Linked DNA regions of Homo sapiens: region 1 is linked to region 2. A link means that fine-mapping ties the variant in region 2 to the expression of a gene that starts in the linked region. Tissue or cell type: whole blood. Region 2 holds a variant in brackets; the other region holds the start of a gene. All regions are shown on one strand. Distances are between the middles of the regions.

What was found. PIP is the estimated chance that this variant, and not a neighbour inherited with it, causes the effect.
Region 1: CNTROB starts here. The variant in region 2 is fine-mapped to the expression of CNTROB in whole blood (INTERVAL, PIP 0.99).

Annotation. Positions count from the first base shown.
Region 1 is chr17:7,926,357-7,935,494 of GRCh38, forward strand. CNTROB (centrobin, centriole duplication and spindle assembly protein) reads left to right here and starts at 5,850. Exons shown (of 19, transcript NM_053051.5): 1 at 5,850-6,993; 2 at 7,782-7,866; 3 at 8,109-8,190; 4 at 8,633-8,789. The coding sequence starts at 6,724. It overlaps KCNAB3 (potassium voltage-gated channel subfamily A regulatory beta subunit 3), which reads right to left and starts at 3,500. Exons shown (of 14, transcript NM_004732.4): 1 at 2,838-3,500; 2 at 1,427-1,470; 3 at 1,301-1,338; 4 at 988-1,067. The coding sequence starts at 3,079. TRAPPC1 (trafficking protein particle complex subunit 1) reads right to left here and starts at 5,590. Exons shown (of 4, transcript NM_021210.5): 1 at 5,375-5,590; 2 at 5,150-5,220; 3 at 4,655-4,793; 4 at 3,993-4,378. The coding sequence starts at 5,473. The coding sequence ends at 4,250. RefSeq lists enhancers at 5,304-5,543, 5,884-5,933, 6,154-6,213, 6,244-6,533, 6,664-6,793 and a silencer at 6,721-6,898.
Region 2 is chr17:7,986,194-7,996,555 of GRCh38, forward strand. No RefSeq gene overlaps it. Among named protein-coding and RNA genes, the nearest start is that of GUCY2D, 11 kb to the right of the region's middle. The variant A/C (reference allele first, on the strand shown) is at 4,199.

The sequences.
Region 1 (9,138 bases), 60 kb before region 2:
ATAGAATAGGATGAGGGGAGAGGGGCCAACTATGGTGGAGCCAGGAAGGACACTGCCTTGTCTGGCTTCAACTATCTGGGTTGCCCTCCTCCTTCTTTGAGCCTCTGCAAAATCCCACCCGTCCTCCAAAGCTCAGCTCAAATTCTGCCTCATCCATAATGTGTTCTCTGAGTGCCACAATCTATGGTCCAGCCTTCTGGTCAGCTTCCACAGAATTGGCTACATAATTTAGCATAAAATTATGAGCTCACTTATGACAAGTCTTAAGTTGTCATGGTGGACTGTTACTGAAATGTTTTACCGTTGTTTAATCTTTCCTATTGCCCTTTTTTTTTCCTTTAACCACTTAGACTGTGTGCACTTTCGCAGACATGTTGATTCTTCCCAGAAGCAGCACCTGCTCTGTGCCAGGCTCTGTGTGGGTACTTGGGGAAGAGCAAGACAAGTTCCATGGAAGGAGGCCTCTGACTTGAGCAGCTAATATAGCTGCATAAACCACGAATTGCGTGTCAGAAGGCAGTCCACAGTGCTTTAGGAGCTCATGGTGGGGGAGGGGGTGACCAACTCTGGGGAGTTGGGCAAAGTTCTTGAAGGAGCGGACACTCGGGTCAAGTCTTGAAGATGAGCAGAAGTGTTTGCTAGATGGGGAAGAGGCAGGGTAGGTCATCCTAGGTTTTCCCTGCTCCTAGTGTGAAACGGCATGATGTGTTTGAAAATTCATCTTTGTAGTTGCACATAACTAATGCCTCAGATATATTTGTTGCCTTTATTTAATGTAGCTGCACAGTACGCCCATTGACTTCTAAGCCAGAGAGGGACTAATGTTGGGACTGTAGCTCCTACAGTGCTTTCGGGTCCCTCCGCCAAAAGGTTGGAACTTCACGTTCTCAGAAGTCCCAGGGTTCTTTAGAGGGAAAACGAGAAGATAATCCCTGGGGTCCTCTCAGCCTTCCAAATGGAGCTTAGCTCTTTCACCCCAGTCCTTACTTTCCTGCTGCGTACACTTCGGCGGTGTCAAACAGGTTTACACCATGCTCATAGGCTACAGTCAGCACATCCTCTGCTGTCTAGGGAGGTGAAAGAGGTAAAGATCAACTACTGCTCCTCAGTTACCTCCCTCACTGTACTCTAACCCATCACATCTCAGCCCTGGGTTCTCTAGTCTCTCCCCTCTCCCCATCCTCCAGCCTCAGATCCCTCATTCCCTGTGCTTGTTGTCCAAACCCCTATCCAGGTTCACTTCCCTTTTTTCAAGTTCCCTCACCCCCACCACCCTGATTCTAGGTCCGATAACTTATACCTCATCTGAGATCTGAGAACCAAATGTGACCCAGGTACCTGCAAGAGAGAAGCCAGGCACATGAGAACTGCAGGGGGCAGACCATGAAAGAATGCCCTCCTTTCCTTAATCCCTATTCTGACTCACCTAGGCCAAGACAGGATACCCGAAGACCAGACTTCCCTAGGTTCCTGCAAGATACAGAAGCAGCGGGAAGGGGTGGAGCCTCCATTATGGACTTAGATTATCAGCCCCCAGCTCCTCTCCTTCCAGACTGAGAAGCCCTCAGGTGTCTCAGTCCAAAGAAATTAGACCCAGTGGGCCTATAAGATTGGGCAAGTGCTATCTCCAGAGCAGAGGTCCTAGGAATTTTCTCAAAAGGACAAGTGAACCATATGTGACTGTTCCTCTGGAGCCACTGTCCAGAGTCTCCATTCCCTCTTATCACATTGAAGACGTGCAGTCTGGTTTGTCCTTCTTCTGGGGTCTTGTCTGTGTTTGAGTCATCTGTGGGTTGTGTGCAGTGAGGGGCTGGGAGGAATTTTGTTTGATTGTGGTGAGTTTGTGAGACCAGGCCCTCAGGCAGAGTGCTGTGCCAAATGGTAGATGGCAGGTTGGAAGAGGTAAACCAAGTCAAGTTCAGGCATTCAGACAGACAGGGGTCCCTGGCTAGGCTAGGCAGATGGGCCTGGAGGAAAGGCAGATTGAGGACCTGGGGGGAGGGGGGAGAGTAAGACAGAAAAGCCTAGTTCTCCCTCTCCACTCCCTCTGTTCCTATTGACTTGTGAAGACTGTCTCTGAACCAGTGAGCCCCCTCATCCTCCCAAAGCCCCCAACCCAGGTGTCAGCTCAGCTTTCCAATCAGGGCCACCATATAGAGGGGATCAGATTCCTCAGGTGACAAAGCAGGTCAGATCAGTGACCTCAGCTCACTCCCAAGCAGGAGCCCCTCCTCTACCCCCTACTTCAGGTTCTGAGCTTCTGGTCTGGCAGTCCTCTGAGATAAAGTCAGTTACATTTCAGTCTACCCAGACCCTGTCCCTCAGCATGGAGATGAAAAATGTGGTCCATCCTTCCCACCGGCCCCACTCCCCTTGCACCCAAGAAAGGTCGCAGAAGACCTAGCCTTTGGGGCAGGCAGGGGCAGTATCTGGGTCAGGCACCCCGAGCAGGCCAGAGTGAGAAGCTGATTCCCTCCCTCCACTCCCCAGGACACGGACCCAAGGACACTCCACTGGAGGAGGCATAGCCTGGAGATCCGTGTAGCGTGGAGATCCATGCATCCCTGACCTTCCCAGGGGTAAGGAGGGAAGCTCAGGGGCATCCCCTGGGTCTGACAGGACCCAGTCAACCTTGGTAAACTTGATTCTCGTAGTCAGGGGTATCGACAGAAACCAAGAGAGGGACAAAGTGAGGGAGTGCCAGAGACAGAAAGAAGAGATGGAAAGAAGGGAGACCTACTTAGTGAAGTTTGAAGGGGTCTTGGCGGCCATCTCAAGCAGTCTCAGGGGTCCCGAAAGGAAAGCGGAAGGGGTGGGCTGCCCGGCCACCCCCATACCTGTATTTCATGCCAGTGCCTCGGCCGGTGCTCTCTCGGAGGGCCCCAGCGGGCGCTGGGGGTCGGGGAACCAGTGCAGCTCGGGCCTTGGGGCCAGACCCTCCACCCCCCGGAGGATTCCCGTGCCCCCCGCCGGCCGGCCCACCATTACCGCCCCCGGGGCCCGGCCGGGGTCCACACAGACGGTCCTCACTGCTCCGGCTGCGAAGGTTCTGCTCGGTACACGCGATAGACACCTGCATGCTGGCTGGCCGAGGCGGGGGAGGGGGCTCCGAGGGGACGGGAGGGGGGAGCAGGGAAGCCCGAGGGCTGACGACCGGGGGCGTAGTGGGGCGAACCCCGGCAGAGCGGGAAGGCTGAGGAGGCTGCGGCGGGAGCCGCCAGGCAGGATCGGGCCCGCGGGGGCGGGCTGCTGGAGGTCGCGAGGTTTGCGGCGGGAGGGAAGAAACGTGGGGGGCGCCAGGAGTGGAGATATTCAGTTACGGGGGACACAGGAGCAAGGATTAGGAGGGGGAAATGGATGAGGGTAAAGGTCGAGGATGAGGTAAAGGTCTCGGAGGATAAGGACCCAGGGGGAAGCGGGGCGGGAGAGAGATGCCACTTCAGCGCGAACCGCTGCGGGACCCGCTGGGCTCCCAGCCGCGTCGGCAGCGGGCCCAGCTCATCAGCATGCAGGCACCGCCTCCTCATCTGCATAGAGCCGCCCTCCTCTCAGCCAAACCTGCCGCTCATCTGCATAAGCCCCGCCTGCTGAAGGCTCTGCAGCTTGAATATTTTCTGAGCGGAATTGGGGAGGATGGCTCCTGCACCCTCTGGGACCCAAGGGCTGTCAGGCTTCCCCCGGCCCAGTGATTCTCAATCGGGAGGGAATGTATCTCCCAGCGTACTTTCGGCAAGGTTTGGAGATATTTTTGATTTCATGCCTGTGCTATCAGCATCTAGTGGGTGGTGGCCAGGGATGCTAAAATCCTACAAAGCACAGGACGGTCCCCACAATAAAGAATTATCCAGCTCAAAGCATCAATATTCCCACGGTTGAGAAACCCATCCGCAAAGCCACTTCGTGGCCCTCCAGGGGGTGTGGCTGCCCTACTTTCCACCTTCATGCGTGGGGCAGGACTGAGAGGGCCCTCAAACCAACACGCTCAGGCCGCAGAGAGTGACAAAAAGTTTATTCTGTGCTTCTCGCAGCATTAGGCAGGGGATAAAACTGGAGAGAGGGCCTGGTGTGGAGGTGGAGGGACTCTGTGGGCTTCACTCTGGTAGGAGGAGAGCATCAGGGCAGGCCTTTAGGCTGTTGCTCTGGGCAGGGGGTGGGGGTGCGGGGGCTTACAGTGGGGGCCCTTAGTTGGCACAGGTTCGGAAGGGCCCCAGGCAGACATGAATTCTCCTGAGACTTGAGGTAGGTTGCTTCAGCCAGCCCGGGCGGAGAAGAAGGGCAGAGAGCGAACATAGGAGTCCAGTCGGGAGCGAAAGAGCTCACTTTGCACAGTTTGGCCCAGCGGGCACAGGGGATTCTTCACCACCAGCTCCACATACAGCTATGGAAAGGGAAGATGTTAGAGCCAGGCTTTGGATACTTCTGGTTTTTAGCCCCAAACCTTGTATAACCTCAGGGGTGTGTGAATGCACAAGGAATAAGGGCTGGAAGGCAAGCCCTCTCTGAGGAGAAAGTGGTGGTGGGAGTTAAGAACCTAAGGGCCCCTGAGAAAACTCTTGAGTTGAGCAAACATATAGTAGGATTGGGGCAGGGGAGATGAGGGAGTCTTGGGGTTCTGAAGAGCTCTGGGGGATGGGTCCCTGGGGCTGGCACTGACCGCACTGTAGATGTGGTGCAGCACATCTCGGATGGGTCCCACGCCCAAGTCAGTATTCATGACAACTTTGATCCCAGTGGGCGTCTCGTAGTAATGGAGTTTGTAACGGCTAGTTTGGAAGGCCAGGAAGCCATCCTTCCTGCAGAGATGAGGAGGGTGTTAAAGAATGGGAGCAGAATCTCTCCCAAAGAGACACTTCTGATCCCCGCAAACATCGACTCCCTCTTTATCTAAACATATCCTTTGTAGAAGCCTGGTTGAGTAAAGACATCGCCCATCGTCACCCCTCAATTTAGCCCCCACCAACTTCTCTACTTTCAGACCCTCCCCACCCCCACTCCTGCCAGCTCCAGCACTCTCGCTCCGGACTCAGCCTCTCTTAAGTACCCTTTCCCCCCTCTGGAGGCCAATGCTCCTTCCACTTCAGAAAGTTTCCCCCATCCCCAAATTCCCAAGGCTAGCCCTCCTCCCAACATCTTCTCTGACTCCGCGTACATGTCTAGCGGGGACATCTTGCTGACAAACGAGCGGATAGAGAAGAGCATCCCGTACATCAGCTTATACTCCTGGAGGGAGAGGGGCAGAGTTAGCTCTCGGTTGATGCGGGAGATGGGGTGGGGGGTGGGAACGAGCTGGGGTTTGGAGAGGAGGGGCTGGGTTGGGACTATAGGTGTTTGGAGATGAGAGGTCGCCCGGGCTGCACCGGGGCCCTCTCGTCACCTCCTCCTTGGGAATCCCTGCTTGCTTCTTGCGGTGCCATTCGCTGTAGTGCAGACACACTCCATTCCGGTCAAACAGGTACAGGTTGTGGACAGTCATCTGCAGGGCAGGGAGTGTGAGCCTCGCTCCGGGGCCGCCCCCACTCCTTGGGCTCGGGTTCCCGGACCCACAGCCTTCCAACCAGGTGGGGACCCCACCCACGGACTCACCGGAACTGCTCCGAGTGCCCGTCAAGAGTTACTTCCGGTTTCCACGGAGCTCCGCCCCTTAGGGGGGTTCTCGCTCGGCCGCGGCTGGGCATTAACTCCGCTCCAGTGCTGCTTGTCAGACTCCGCCTCCCTCCCTCAGCCAATCTGTGGCCACCGGAGCCGCGCACGCGCGGCCAGGCGCTCGGGATACAGAAGTGATGTGAGTGTCTGCGAGCGTGGTCTCGCGGGCGGGTGACGTCATCGAGGCGAGAGAGGCGGAGCCGTGGACAGTGGGCGGGAGGCTGCCAACGGTTTTGAGCGTAGGGGGAGGCGTGAGAGGGGGATCTCAGGGGAGGAGGTCAATCGCTTGCCCCCCACTTTGGCAAATTGGGGACTGAGGACTGGAAGGGTGGAGAGTAGGCGGAACCAGGTGGTCGTCGGGGCAGAGGATCTCGGGCTAGGCTTGAGGGCGGCGTGCTTCTTAGGGACGACTTAGGGCGTGACTGAGGGTTCACAAGGTTTCTTTTGGGGTGGTCGGGAGGGAGAGATTCTAGGGAACAAGGAAGCTCGCTATGGCTTTCTTGCCAGGAGGGGTCGAAGGGAAAGTACAAGGGAGCTGGAGCTGACCCTGGGTAGAACGGGTGAAGGGATGGGGGAGCGTGAGGTTCCGCCCTCTCTTGAGACTGGAACCAATTGAGGGACTAGTAGGGCAGGGGGACAGAAATTGGGCTCCTAGTGGATTTGGGTCCGTTTCCGTTGGGACGTTTTGGGTGTGAGAACTTAAGAGCTCAGTTGACCGGGGATAGCCTGTGCCGGAGTTGATCTGCAGCTTCCAGCACTCGTAGTCGGGAAGAGGAGCTTCAGCAGCGCTGTTGTCCCACAGTAGGTCTTCTGTCCGCACCCGCTCTGCGCTGCACCCTCTTAACGCTGTTCCCAGGAGCTGGGGAAAGGGATGCTTTTGCCCACTCCCATGGCCCCTGGAACTGGTGGAAACCTTTCCTCTAACCAGAAAGCCTCGATATCCTTAATTCACCAAGGATCCTTGGCGTGGAGTCTTCCTCCCTTCTCCCAAGTCTTTCTCCGTGAACTTTTCCTCCTGGACTTTGCTAAAGCAGAACCTCCCAGCTCTTTGCTGTCTCCGGTTGTCTCTTCCCTGTATTCATGGCAACATCAGCTGACAGCCCCAGTTCACCCCTCGGGGCGGAGGATCTCCTGAGTGATTCATCAGAACCCCCTGGGCTCAACCAAGTGTCGTCTGAAGTGACCTCCCAGCTCTATGCTTCTTTGCGCCTCAGCCGGCAGGCGGAGGCCACGGCCCGAGCCCAGCTGTATTTACCCTCCACCTCCCCGCCTCATGAAGGGTTAGACGGCTTCGCCCAAGAATTGAGTCGAAGCTTGTCAGTCGGATTGGAAAAGAACTTGAAGAAAAAGGTGAGGGAAGTGTGTCTTGGAGACCACTGTGGCACTAGACACCAGAGAGTCTTGGGATTGGGGTTGGTAAAAATAAAAAGCTTTGATGAGATTTGAACTCTTCCTGTTGGATTTCATATTCCTTTTAACTGCATAGGCAGCCATGCTTATAAGGGAGGGAGTGACCTGGGACACCATAATTTGAAAATTATGAAACTTCCCAGTGTTTTTTTGTGAGAGACATCTCTGCTCCGAGTAGATAGAGCAAACCTATGGGGTAGGTTGGTGAGCTATTTCCCGTGCACTGGGAATGGGTAAGGTTTCTTGATCCCAAGAGGGAGCTAGGGACTTAGGATAGCAGCTCCGATCCTTCCAGCTCAACACTATGTTGATAGTATGGTTCCAACTTTGGCATGTACATCATTAAGACATAGCTTAGTCAACTACAACATGTTACAGAGAAGATAGTTATTAGTATTGTATAGAAAAGGTGTCAGAGTCAATTTGCAGACTGGTTAGGTCTTCCAGAGTTTGAAAATGATAGCCATAAGCCATACAGTCCTTACATTTGTTCTTGAATCGGCAAGAATCTCCGCAACTCTTGTCTTATACCTCCTCGATTATTTTATTTACACTCTCTTTCTGGCTTCTGTAGTATTTGAATTTCTGATTCAAGTTTAGGACATCCCTTATTGGATCCGTTTGGTTTTTCTTGTTTTCCAAAGTGCTGGAGTGAAAATTCTACCCTGGCAATAGGTAGGAGATAGATAACACAGACTGCATCTGATTTCCATGTGGCTTTTTTCCAGGATGGTTCTAAGCATATCTTTGAGATGGAAAGTGTTCGGGGTCAGCTCCAGACCATGCTCCAAACCTCACGTGATACAGCCTATCGTGAGTAAGCCCCTTCCCTAGAACTATGAAGGAGAACCTAGATGTAAGGGGTGGGAGAAAGTGGACAGAGGAAGCAGGCAGGAAAACCTCTGAGCAAGAGATTTCAGGAGAAAAGTCTCCCGTTCTTTGGGAGAGGGGGTGAAGGAGTGAGGGAACTGGAAAGGAAGGCCTTTTCTCTTCAGGTGGCCCCTGTTTTTGTCATTACCTGACTCTGGCTTTGGGGTCCCTCTGGCTGCCTGCAGGGGATCCTCTCATTCCTGGCGCTGGCTCAGAGAGACGGGAAGAGGACTCCTTTGACAGTGATAGCACAGCCACCTTGCTCAAGTGAGTTCTCCTTGTGGTTCTCCTAGCTTGTTTGCTTTCTTGGAAATCCAGGTGTTTTGTTCCTTATTTCTCCCTTTATTGCTTTTGTACCTCTTAAGAACCCAAGAGGCTTATCACTTGCCTTTCAGTTTTCATCTTTTTCTACTGTCTCCTGCCCCCTTTACTCCTTCAGGAACACAGGTATCTGTTGCCTAGTACCTGGCTTTCTCTTAACCTGCAGTCATTCTTCCCCTCTAAAGAGTTAGCTTGTTTCTGCTGAAACCTTTAAGTGAATCACAGACCTGTGTGTTATTTATAGCACTATGGTTATATAGCTTTACGACTTTGGACAAGTCTCTTGCCCTCTCTGGGTCTCAGTTTCCTCATTTGTAGAATATCACAGTTGGACAAGTGGATTCCAAAAGCTTTCCCAGCCCTAACATTCTCTACCTGATTTGCTCAGCACCCGGCCCCTGCAAGACTTGTCTCCATCTAGCTCAGCCCAAGCCCTGGAGGAGCTGTTTCCCCGCTACACCAGCCTTCGGCCAGGGCCTCCACTCAATCCCCCAGATTTTCAGGGGCTGAGAGATGCATTGGATTCAGAGCATACCCGCCGCAAGGTAAGATGCAAACGCTTCCTTTCGAAAGCAGCAAAGATTAGAAAGAGGGGACCCAAGTGTTGAAAAGGGCTGAGGGGGCCTGGCGTGGTGGCTCACGCCTGTAATCACAGCACTTTGGGAGGCTGAGGCAGGCGGATCACGAGGTCAGGAGATCGAGACCATCCTGGCTAACACGGTGAAACCCGTCTCTACTAAAAATAGAAAAAATTAGCCGGGCATGGTGGTGGGTGCCTGTAGTCCCAGCTACTCGGGAGGCTGAGGCAGGAGAATGGCGTGAACCTGGGAGGCGGAGCTTGCAGTGAGCCGAGATCATGCCGCTGCACTCCAGCCTGGGCGACAGAGCGAGACT
Region 2 (10,362 bases):
AGGGGCTCAGAGCAAGAGATTATATTTTCCCTTAGCTTAATCATACAGGATGGGCCAGGTGCGGTGGCTCATGCCTGTAATCCCAGCATTTTGGGAGGCCAAGGCAGGTGGATCACCTGAGGTCAGGAGTTCGAGATCAGCCTGGCCAACATGGTGAAACCCCGTCTCTACTAAAAATACAAAAATTAGACGGGTGTGGTGGCGGCGGGTGCCTGTAATCCCAGCTACTCGGGAGGCTGAGGCAGGAGAATCAAAACTCCATCTCAAAAAAAAAAGAAATTATACAGGATGTCTGAAAGGGTGAAGCCATCTAATGCCAAGATCACTCCTGCTTTTGAAACCTGACAAAGCCAAAAGGAAGTCTGCAAGCCCTAGTGGCATCGCTCTGGGAGACATTCTGGTCATATGCTATGATTACTCCAGATGGACGGGACTCCCTGTTAATGTCTAAGACTCTGGTAATATGCCATTATCTTTTGACTATTATTTTTCAGGTTATATCTACAGCCATATTGTGATATAGCGTTAACACTCACCTTGTTGCTAAGATTCAACTATCTTACATAAACAGGTCATGTGATAATACTGATATTGATGATCAAATGTATTGGGAAAATGGCCCTAAGGAAGAACTGGATTTAACTAACCAAAGCTAATTTCTATGCTACCATGCTCTGAGAAGCCCAAGCCATGGAATCACTACATAGAGAAGTACAGAGGTCCTCAACTCACAGCCCTCACCAACTTGCTGGAGGATAGCAACACCAGCTACCAGCCCCATACCCCGGCCAGCATCACGTGGAGCAGGGCCGCCTGGTGAAGCCACTGGGTCCACAGAATCATGAAGTTACAACTGGCATTGCTTCAAGCCATGCAACATTGGGGAGTATTTTATTTCCTACCAGTAAATAGACAAAACACCTGATATTTCCAATCCCTCAGGCTTCCCGGATTCTGCTGGTTTTTGATGTCCACCCCCACCCGCCAGCGCTTGGATTTGAGCTCCCTCTGCTCTGCCAAGTCAGTCATCACTCTCCACTCTCCCCCTGCTTTCCAGAATGCTGAGTTCTCCTGTCTGTGCTCATTTCCTCCCCCGCTCTTCTTGTCCTTGTGGGTTTATGCCTTTTTTATCCCTTTATTGTAATTTTAGTGGGGTTTGGGGAGGGTGAAGAGATAAATAGATCTGCTTAATCCGTCCTGTTTAATTCAGTTTCTCCTGCATTCTTAACATCCTATTCACAGGATTCTCCCTCCACCTCCTTCTTTACTCAAGATCTGGCTCTGCTCACAGGCTCCTCCCAGACGCCACACACCCCAGAGTTGAGAGGTTTGGGGTCAGTGTCCTCATTCCCAGTGGTTCCTTGAGGGCCATGCCACTCACCTCTTCCACCCCGCCCCCATCCCTGGTGAATGCCATCATTCACTGAGCAGTGGGCACACCCTCTTCTCCATCAGCTCCCAGTCTTCTCATTCTGGTGACTTCACCATCCCCAAGATCAATCCAGCCATCAGCTTGGCCTCTGAGCGCCCCGAACTCCTCGTGTCACATGCTTCTCCTCTACCTCCTTCAGCCATGACGTCACAGGACCAAACCCCCACTGTGTCATCTCCCAGAGCTGCCTCCCCTCTGAAGTCACTAATTCAGGCTGCCTACCCAGCACAACGGCCAGCTAAGAGGTCCCTTCTCCTGTGTGGAGCTGATCCCGTAGTCTATGCTCTGCATCCCTTGTCGCGCCCCCACCTCCCGATGGTGCATTCCATCTGCCTTACGTTGTCACCTTCTCCTTCTCTGTACGGTTTATTTTACTTTATTTTATTCTATTTGGAGACAGAGTCTCGCTCTGTCGCCCAGGCTGGAGTACAATGGCACGATCTCAGCTCACTGCAATCTCCGCCTCCCAGGTTCAAGCGATTCTCCTGCCTCAGCCTCCTGGGTAGCTGGGATTACAGGCACCTGCACCACACCTGGCTAATTTTTAGTAGAGATGGGGTTTCACCATGTTGTCCAGGCTGAACTCAAACTCCCGACCTCAGATGATCTGCCCACCTCAGTCTCCCAAAGCGCGGAGATTACAGGTGTGAGCCTCCACACCCGGCCTCCTTCTCTGTATGTTTTCTGAGGGCAGCACCAGCACCCATTCACCCACTTCCAGCAGCAGAGCCTGATTTTGCCTCTAGACCTCTCCCTGTCCCCCTCAGTCCTTGTCATCTAGGTTAAACTGGCTACACCCTCAGCCTGGTGTGAGCCAGGCCCTGCCAATCCATCACCTTGCCTGGTGACTGAGATGGACTCGGGAGTGGACATCCGACCAAAGGCAGGCCAGTTAGTCAAGAGACTCTTGGATTTTTGTGGAAGCCATTAGGTAAGTGGGGTCTTTGCTGGTTGGATTTAAGTCTGGGAGGATGAAGGACAGCACTGTTGCAGCCGTTTTGCCACAATGAGGGGAGGGCCTTTGGGAGGATAAAGCCCAGCATAGAAGAGAGCAAAGCCTGAGGCCTGCGGCATCTATGCCTGAATCCAGCTGTGCCTGAAGGTAGCGCTGTAGCTCAGGTTTCCAGTTACAAGAACCCATTCAACCTTTCTGCCTTAGCCTGGTTAGTATTGTGGTCCCACTGAACGTACCATTCAGGAGAATCACGTTTAAAAGTGGCACAAGACAAAGACATGAATCTGAATACCTTCAGACATAGTCTACAGCTCCCCCTGGTGGAAAACATTGTTTTTTAGAGTCCAGCTACTAGGCCTTAATTTTTATCCACCACGTGTCCCAATAGTCTGTATATATCTAGGTCAATTTAGAACATCTTTTCTAGTTCAAAAAGCATGTAATTGCTGCTATTTATAATCCTGATCACAGCCCATTCCGGTAATACTTTGTAATTCAGAACTATAATCCCCAACGAAACATGTCCCAGAATCAAGCAGTGAATGTAGAATGTGCTAGATCATTAGGACTCTTTTTTTTTTCTTTTTGAGATAGGGTCTCGCTCTATTGCTCAGGCTGGAGTGCAGTGGTGTGATCAGGTTCACTGCCGTCTCGACCTCCTGGGTTCAATGATCCTCCCGCCTTGGCCTCCCAAAATGCTGGTGATTACAGGCAGGAACCACTGTGCCCAGCCAGGAATCAATGTTTATAATTATCAAAAAAGAGACAAGAAGAAAGGAGGAAACACAAAACCATAATGCGGAAGAATGTTAAAATCCGGTCAAGTATAACTTCATTGATTTCTGGTTTCAAGGATTGTACCCCACAATTGTCTCTTTTCTCCCCACACGTCATGGAAATGATCAGAAAGAAGTAATTGTATGACAGTTTAAAAAATGAACTGTTCCGACCTGGAGCGGTGGCTCACGCCTGTAATCCCAGCACTTTGGGAGGCCGAGGTGGGTGATCACCTGAGGTCAGGAGTTCGAGACCAGCCTGACCAACATGGTGAAACCTCGTCTCTACTGAAAAAAAAAAATGCAAAATTAGCCGGGCATGCTAGCGCATGGCGGAGGTTGCAGTGAGCCGAAATCGCGCTATTGCACTCCAGCATGGGTAACAAGAGCGAAACTCGGTCTCGGAAAAAAAAAAATCTGTTCCAGCAAATGATAAAGCTGGAGAGAATGTTACTAACAGAACTGAAAATCTGAGGAATTTGAGGAAATGTGTTCTTCGTTGAGAGCAAAGTCACGCAGTGCTGAGCTGAGCACCCAGCGCAAAGGAGGGGCTCCCTAAAGGAAGGTGGAAAGGTCTCCCCAGTAGAGCTCCGCCCAGCCCCAGCTCTAAGCAGCGGGCCCCGGGCATCAGGGTTTCAGGGCTGAGGAATGTCCAGCGCCGCCCGATCGCGCCTCGCTTCCTCCATCACTAAACCACCGGGGGACTGACTGCCCGAGGCTGGTGCAGAAGCGGGTGCGGAAGCGGGAGAGGGAACGCGCGTGGCGCTCCAGCCGCCACCCCAACCCTGCCACTTCCGCAGCTGCCCGGGCGCCGCTGCACCCGGACCACTCTGCGGTCTACCCGCTGCGGCCAGAAGAAGAGAGACTCCGGGGAGGGTGGCCCTGCCGCACCCTGGCCTTCACAGAGCAGGGGGCGGAAGAGCCCAGGTGCCCTCGGTGCCTGCGCAACCTGAGCCCCGGCCGCCTCGCGCCTTATCCTTGGGGCTCCCCCTGGCGGCTAAGCCGGTCCCTGCAGGGAAACGTGCCCGTTGTCTC[A/C]TCTGCATCCACTTAGCACCAAGACGGGGTAGCTGAGGGGGTCGGCGGAAGAGGAGAGGGGAGGCAGCAAAAGATGATCCATGCGGACGACCAGGGAGCCCACACCAGCCTCCAAGCGCGTCAGCCTCCAGCTCCACTCCCCAGGGTGAAGAGTCAACGGACAATCACCCCGAAGTAAGGCCCTACCGCCTCCTGAAAAAGGTGGTTAAAGAAGGGCAATCCGCTAAAGAATAGAGTACACGGGCCGGGCGCGGTGGCTAACGCCTGTAATCCCAGCACTTTGGGAGGCCGAGGCGGGCGGATCACGAGGTCAAGAGATCGAGAGCATCCTGGCGAACACGGTGAAACCCCGTCTCTACTAAAAATACAAAAAATGAGCCGGGCTTGGTGGCGGGCGCCTGTAGTCCCAGCTACTCGGGAGGCTGAGGCAGGAGAATGGCGTGAACCCGGGAGGCGGAGCTTGCAGTGAGCCGAGATAGCGCCACTGCACTCCAGCCTGGGCGGCAGAGCGAGACTCCGTCTCAAAAACAAAAAACAAACAAACAAACAAACAAACGGAATGGAGTACACGAATTATAAGTACAAGAATGTACTTAAAATATTCAAATTAATACCCTCAATAACATTAATGCCAGAATCTTGCATTCACAATAAAAAACTTGGTGTCCAAAATGTGGTACATCCATGCAATGGAGTATTATTCAGCCTCTAACAGGAATGAAATTCTTACACATGCTATAATGTGGGTGGACCCTGAAAACATTACCCTGAGTGAAATAAGCCAAATACGGAAGGACAAATCCTGTATGATTCCACCTCTACGAGGTACTTAGAATAGGTAAATTCATACAGGAGAAAGTAGACTAGAGGGGCCGTCGTTGTTTAATGGGTACAGAGCTTTTGTTGGAGATGGTGAAGAGTTTCAGGTGTAGTGGTGATGGTTACACAAAAATTTTGGCTGTACTTAATGCCACTAAACTGTACACTTAAAAATGGCTAAAATGAGGCCGGGCGCGGTGGCTCACGGCTGTAATCCGAGCACTCTGGGAGGCCGAGGCGGGTGGATCACCTGAGGTCAGGAGTTCGAGACCAGCCTGGCCAATATGGCGAAACCCCGTCTCTACTAAAAATACAAAAATTAGCACGTGCCTGTAATCCCAGTCTGAAGGTATTCAGATTCATGTCTTTGTCTTGTGCCACTTTTAAACGTGATTCTCCTGAATGGTACGTTCAGTAGGACCACAATGCTAACCAGGCTAAGGCAGAAAGGTTGAATGGGTTCTTGTAACTGGAAACCTGAGCTACAGCGCTACCTTCAGGCACAGCTGGATTCAGGCATAGACGCCGCAGGCCTCAGGCTTTGCTCTCTTCTATGCTGGGCTTTATCCTCCCAAAGGCCCTCCCCTCATTGTGGCAAAACGGCTGCAACAGTGCTGTCCTTCATCCTCCCAGACTTAAATCCAACCAGCAAAGACCCCACTTACCTAATGGCTTCCACAAAAATCCAAGAATTGAGTCTCTTTTTATTTATTTATTTATTTTTTTGAGACGGAGTTTCACTCCTTTGTCCAGGCTGGAGTGCAATGGCAGGATCTTGGCTCACTGCAACCTCCGCCTCCCAGGTTCAAGGGATTCTCCCGCCTCAGCCTCCTGAGTAGCTGGGACTACAGGCACCCGCCACAATGCCCGGCTGATTTTTTGTATTTTTAGTAGAGATGGAGTTTCACCATGTTGACCAGGCTGGTCTTGAACTTCTGGCCTCAGGTGATCCACCCGCCTAGGCCTCCCGAAGTGCTGGGATTACAGGTATGAGCCACTGCACCCGGCCAAGAATTGAGTCTCTTGACTAACTGGCCTGCTTTTGGTCGGATGTCCACTCCCGAGCCCATCACAGTCACCAGGCAAGGTGATGGATTGGCAGGGCCTGGCTCACACCAGGCTGAGGGTGTAGCCAGTTTAACCTAGATGACAAGGACTGTAGCTGGGACTACAGGTGCAGGCCACCACGCCCGGCTAATTTTTTGTATTTTAGTAGAAATGGGATTTCACCATGTTGGCCAGGATGGTCTCGATCTCCTGACCTTGTGATCCACCCACTTCGGCCTCCCAAAGTGCTGGGATTACAGGCATGAGCCACTGCACCCAGCCTGTTGTGGCCATCTTTAGAAAATACAATACGCCACAGCCTGCCCTCTGACCACAACTCACATTCCAACCACATGAAAACACAAGGCTCTTCCCATTATGGCATCAACTCAAGGTCTAGCACTTCTGCATCCAAGTTGGGTCCAGAGGCAGCTGAGTCTCCACAGGTGATTCACCAACTTTCTGCAGCTCTCAGGGTACCTGTTCTGGATTAAAAATGAGATCATCCCAGCTCTGTGGGGTGGTCAAGAGCTTCCCTGGAATGTGGCATCGTAACATTCCACTAGCACTCCCTGAGCACCTTACATGCCCAGCTCCACTGTGTGGACCCATGGAAAACCTGGATGAACAGGAAAGACCCAGAATTTGCCAATGCAAGCTTTGGTGTAGGCTGTCCTCTGTGACTGTCACTGGTTCCACTGATGCAGGGCAGGTGAGCCCCAAAATTGAGGCTTAGCCAGGGAGGGTTCTTGGCTTCACCCAAGAAAGAATTCAAGGGCAAGCTGGTGGCAAGGGGTGGATATGCAACAATTTCTAGAAAAAGGTTGGTAACTTCTGGGTTGTTGAGTTGTTGCCATGGAAAGGGGTAGTAACTTCTGGGTGTTGCCATGGCAATGGTAAACTGACATGGCACTGGTGGGCGTGTCTTATGGAGTGGTGTTCTCACCTCTTCCGTGTTTCAGCTAGTCTTCAATCTGGTCCAGAGTCCAAGCCCCACCTCTGGAGTCAAGTCCTGCCTCCTATATCACTGCTACTTGGATGTCATCCCCAATCGTGGAACCTTCTTCAGGTTCCTTAACTTTACTACATTCAACTGTAAAATCTCATAGCTACATTCCATGGTGACTTCAGGTTTTTGAACATATGCTGATAAATACTTATTTGGAGGGATCACACAGTGGTCCTGTCAGCCAGCCTCACTTTCCATTGTGGTTACATCCTCATCTGTAGAGCAAGGCTTCTTACCATTTTTTTGGAATATTTATCTTATGAGAAATGGGAATACTGAAAGCATAACTATTAAGACTTCATATAATTGAGACAAATAGAAAAGATTTACCTACAACAGGGTGTTCACTGGCTTTAAGCTAAAGGACCTGGCAGACTGCGTTCTAGTTGTTAAGGAAAGAAACAAAATACACAAAATCCTGGGAATGCATCATTGGAAGTTGAGCCTAAAATGTACTGTATTATTGGGGACTTTATATTAAATACATTTGATGACAGATTTACCCTCTTTGGGAAGAGAACCTTCCTGATAGTCTGTGGTTCCCACTCTCCTATCAGGCCCGAGTCTGCGTTTTTTTGTTTGTTTTGTCTTCGTTTTGAGATGGAGTTTCGCTCTTGTTGCCCAGGCTGGAGTGCAGTGGCACGATGTCGGCTCACTGCAACCTCTGCTTCCCGGGTTCAAGGGATTCTCCTGCCTCAGCCTCCCCAGTAGCTGGGACTACAGGCACATGCCACCACGCCCGGCTAATTGTTTGTATTTTTAGTAGAGACGTGATTTCACCGTGTTAGCCAAGATGGTCTCGATCTCTTCACCTCGTGATCCGCCCGCCTCGGCCTCTCAAAGTGCTGGGATTATAGGCAACAGCCTCCCCGCCCGGCCGAGCCTGCGTTTTTAGGTGTACCATGCAGCATACACGAAAGGGATGAAAGACCCGCGTATCCATTGGCCCTGACTGCTGTGACGGATTACCACAAACTTGGTGGCTGAAACAACACACGTTTACTCTCTTACAGTTCTGGAAGTCAGAAGTCCGAATTCAGTTTCACTGGGCCCAAATCCGGTTGTTGGCGGGGCCTTGCTGTCTCTGCAGAATCCATTTCCCATCCATTTCCCGGAGTCACATTTCTTGCGTCCCTTGGCTCCTGTCCTCCAGCAGCGCAGCATCCTGCTTCAGTGTTGCTTTGCTTTGTGTGTCGAATCTCCCTCTTATAAGGACGCTTGTGATTACATTGAGGGCCCACCCAGATAATCCAGGATAATCTTTCCATCTCAAGATCCTTACATTCAAATGGCGAAACATTATTGAATAAAATGAAGTAAATCTATATCTAAGAACATGGAAAACGTCCAAGACATGTAATAAAGGGAAAAATAGAAACTAATACTCGACAACCAGTTAGAAGATATAATAGAAGAAAAGGACCTACAAGAGCAATATAAAAGATAAAATGCTTTTTAATAAACTTAACACAGTTCACAGGTTCTGGGGATTTGGAAATAAAAGAAAAAAAAAGAAAAGAAAAATACAATGATAAAAAAGAAAAGAGTAACAAGAAATACATCAAACTCACTTAAAGAAAAGGTAAAAACACTACAGAAGGGTACAAAAGTAGGCTTCAACAAATAGTAGTCTTGCCCAGAAAGACTCAACATCCTAAAATGTAAATCTTCCATAAATTAATTTATAAGTTTAACACAATAACAAAGAAAGTGCCAATGACTTTTTAAAAATTAGGAAGATGATTAAAAAGACAATATAAAAAATTAATGCATAAGAATTATCAGGAAAATTCTGGAAAGGAGGAGCAATGAGGCAGAGGACGGAGAGTAGCTCTGTAAATTAATTAAAAATATTATAATACTTCAGTAATGAAAGTAGTATAGTAGTGGTTCATATTAGACAGACTGACCAAGGGAACAGAACAGAAAATCCAGAAATACATGCAGATACATTCAGGATTGTTCTTTATGATGATATGAGGAGAAATGAATTATTCAGTGAATGGTAATGGGACAGCTGGGAACCAGGCAGATGAAAATAAAATTGGATCCACACCTTACTCCTCACATCAGGATAAATTCCAAAGGGGTCACAGATTTAAATGTAAACGTGAAACTGTAAGTCCTTGAAGAATGAAGAAAACATTGGAGAATGTGTTTGTAGCCTTTGCTTTTCTGATAGTGATTTAAAATCCAAACGGCATTTAAAAATTTTAAAAGACTGCATTTGAAAATGTACTTGGCAAAAACACACTCACATTATAAGCAAAGAGTAGACACATCAACTGGGATTTTTTTTTCAAATCATATTACAAATGTGTATTCTCCTAACATATAAAGAGATCTAAAAAATGATAAGAAAAAGACCAATAACCCAATAGAAAAGTGAGCAAAAGATATAAACAGACAGTTCTCAAAAAAGATATGCAAAAGGCCTGTAAACATGAAAATATGTTCAGCCTCACTCAGAAGAGAAACACAAATTTAAACTATACCATGATACTTTTTTTTCCCTTGGATGCCATTTTTCTTTTTCAAATATCAAATTGGAGAAATTAAAAACACACTCTGAATCCAGGCTGTGGGCAACAAGACACTCTAAGTCATTGCTGGTACTAGTGTAAATTGGCATAATCCCTAGAGGGGACAATTTGGCAACATCTCTCCAAATTACAGTGCATTTACACAGGCAATTTGCCTGTAGATGTACTTAGATATATGCAAAGTGAGGCTTGTACAAGGTATTCATCGGAGCAGCAATAGCAAAGAGTAACCAGGTTACAGTTCTGCGATTCAATGGAATCTATGCAGCTATGATCAGCTCTCTATGAAACAAGAAACAAGACCTCCAAGATATTGTTGAAATAAAATAGCAAGGTACAGAACAGTGTTATCTTTTATGTAAAAAGGGGACTAGAAGAAAATAGATTCTTATTGCTTGCGTATGCCCAAGGAGCGCCACAAAACGTATGAGAATCTACCTGTGGCTCTCCCTTTGGGGGAAGTGGGCTGACAGGGGACACACGTGGTAGGGAGCATTTTCACTGTATATTCTTTTTTGTTTATTTTATTTTTGAACGATGTAATTGTATTATATTTTCATAAAACAAATATAAAATATTTTAAGGAGGGAAGCAGATTGTAAAATAGTACATAAAATTATCTATTTTCGGCTGGGCGTGGTGGCTCACACCTGTAATCCCAGCACTTTAGGAGGCCGAGGCAGGTGGATCACAAGGTCAAGAGATCGAGACCATCCTGGCCAACATGGTGAAACCCCGTCTCTACT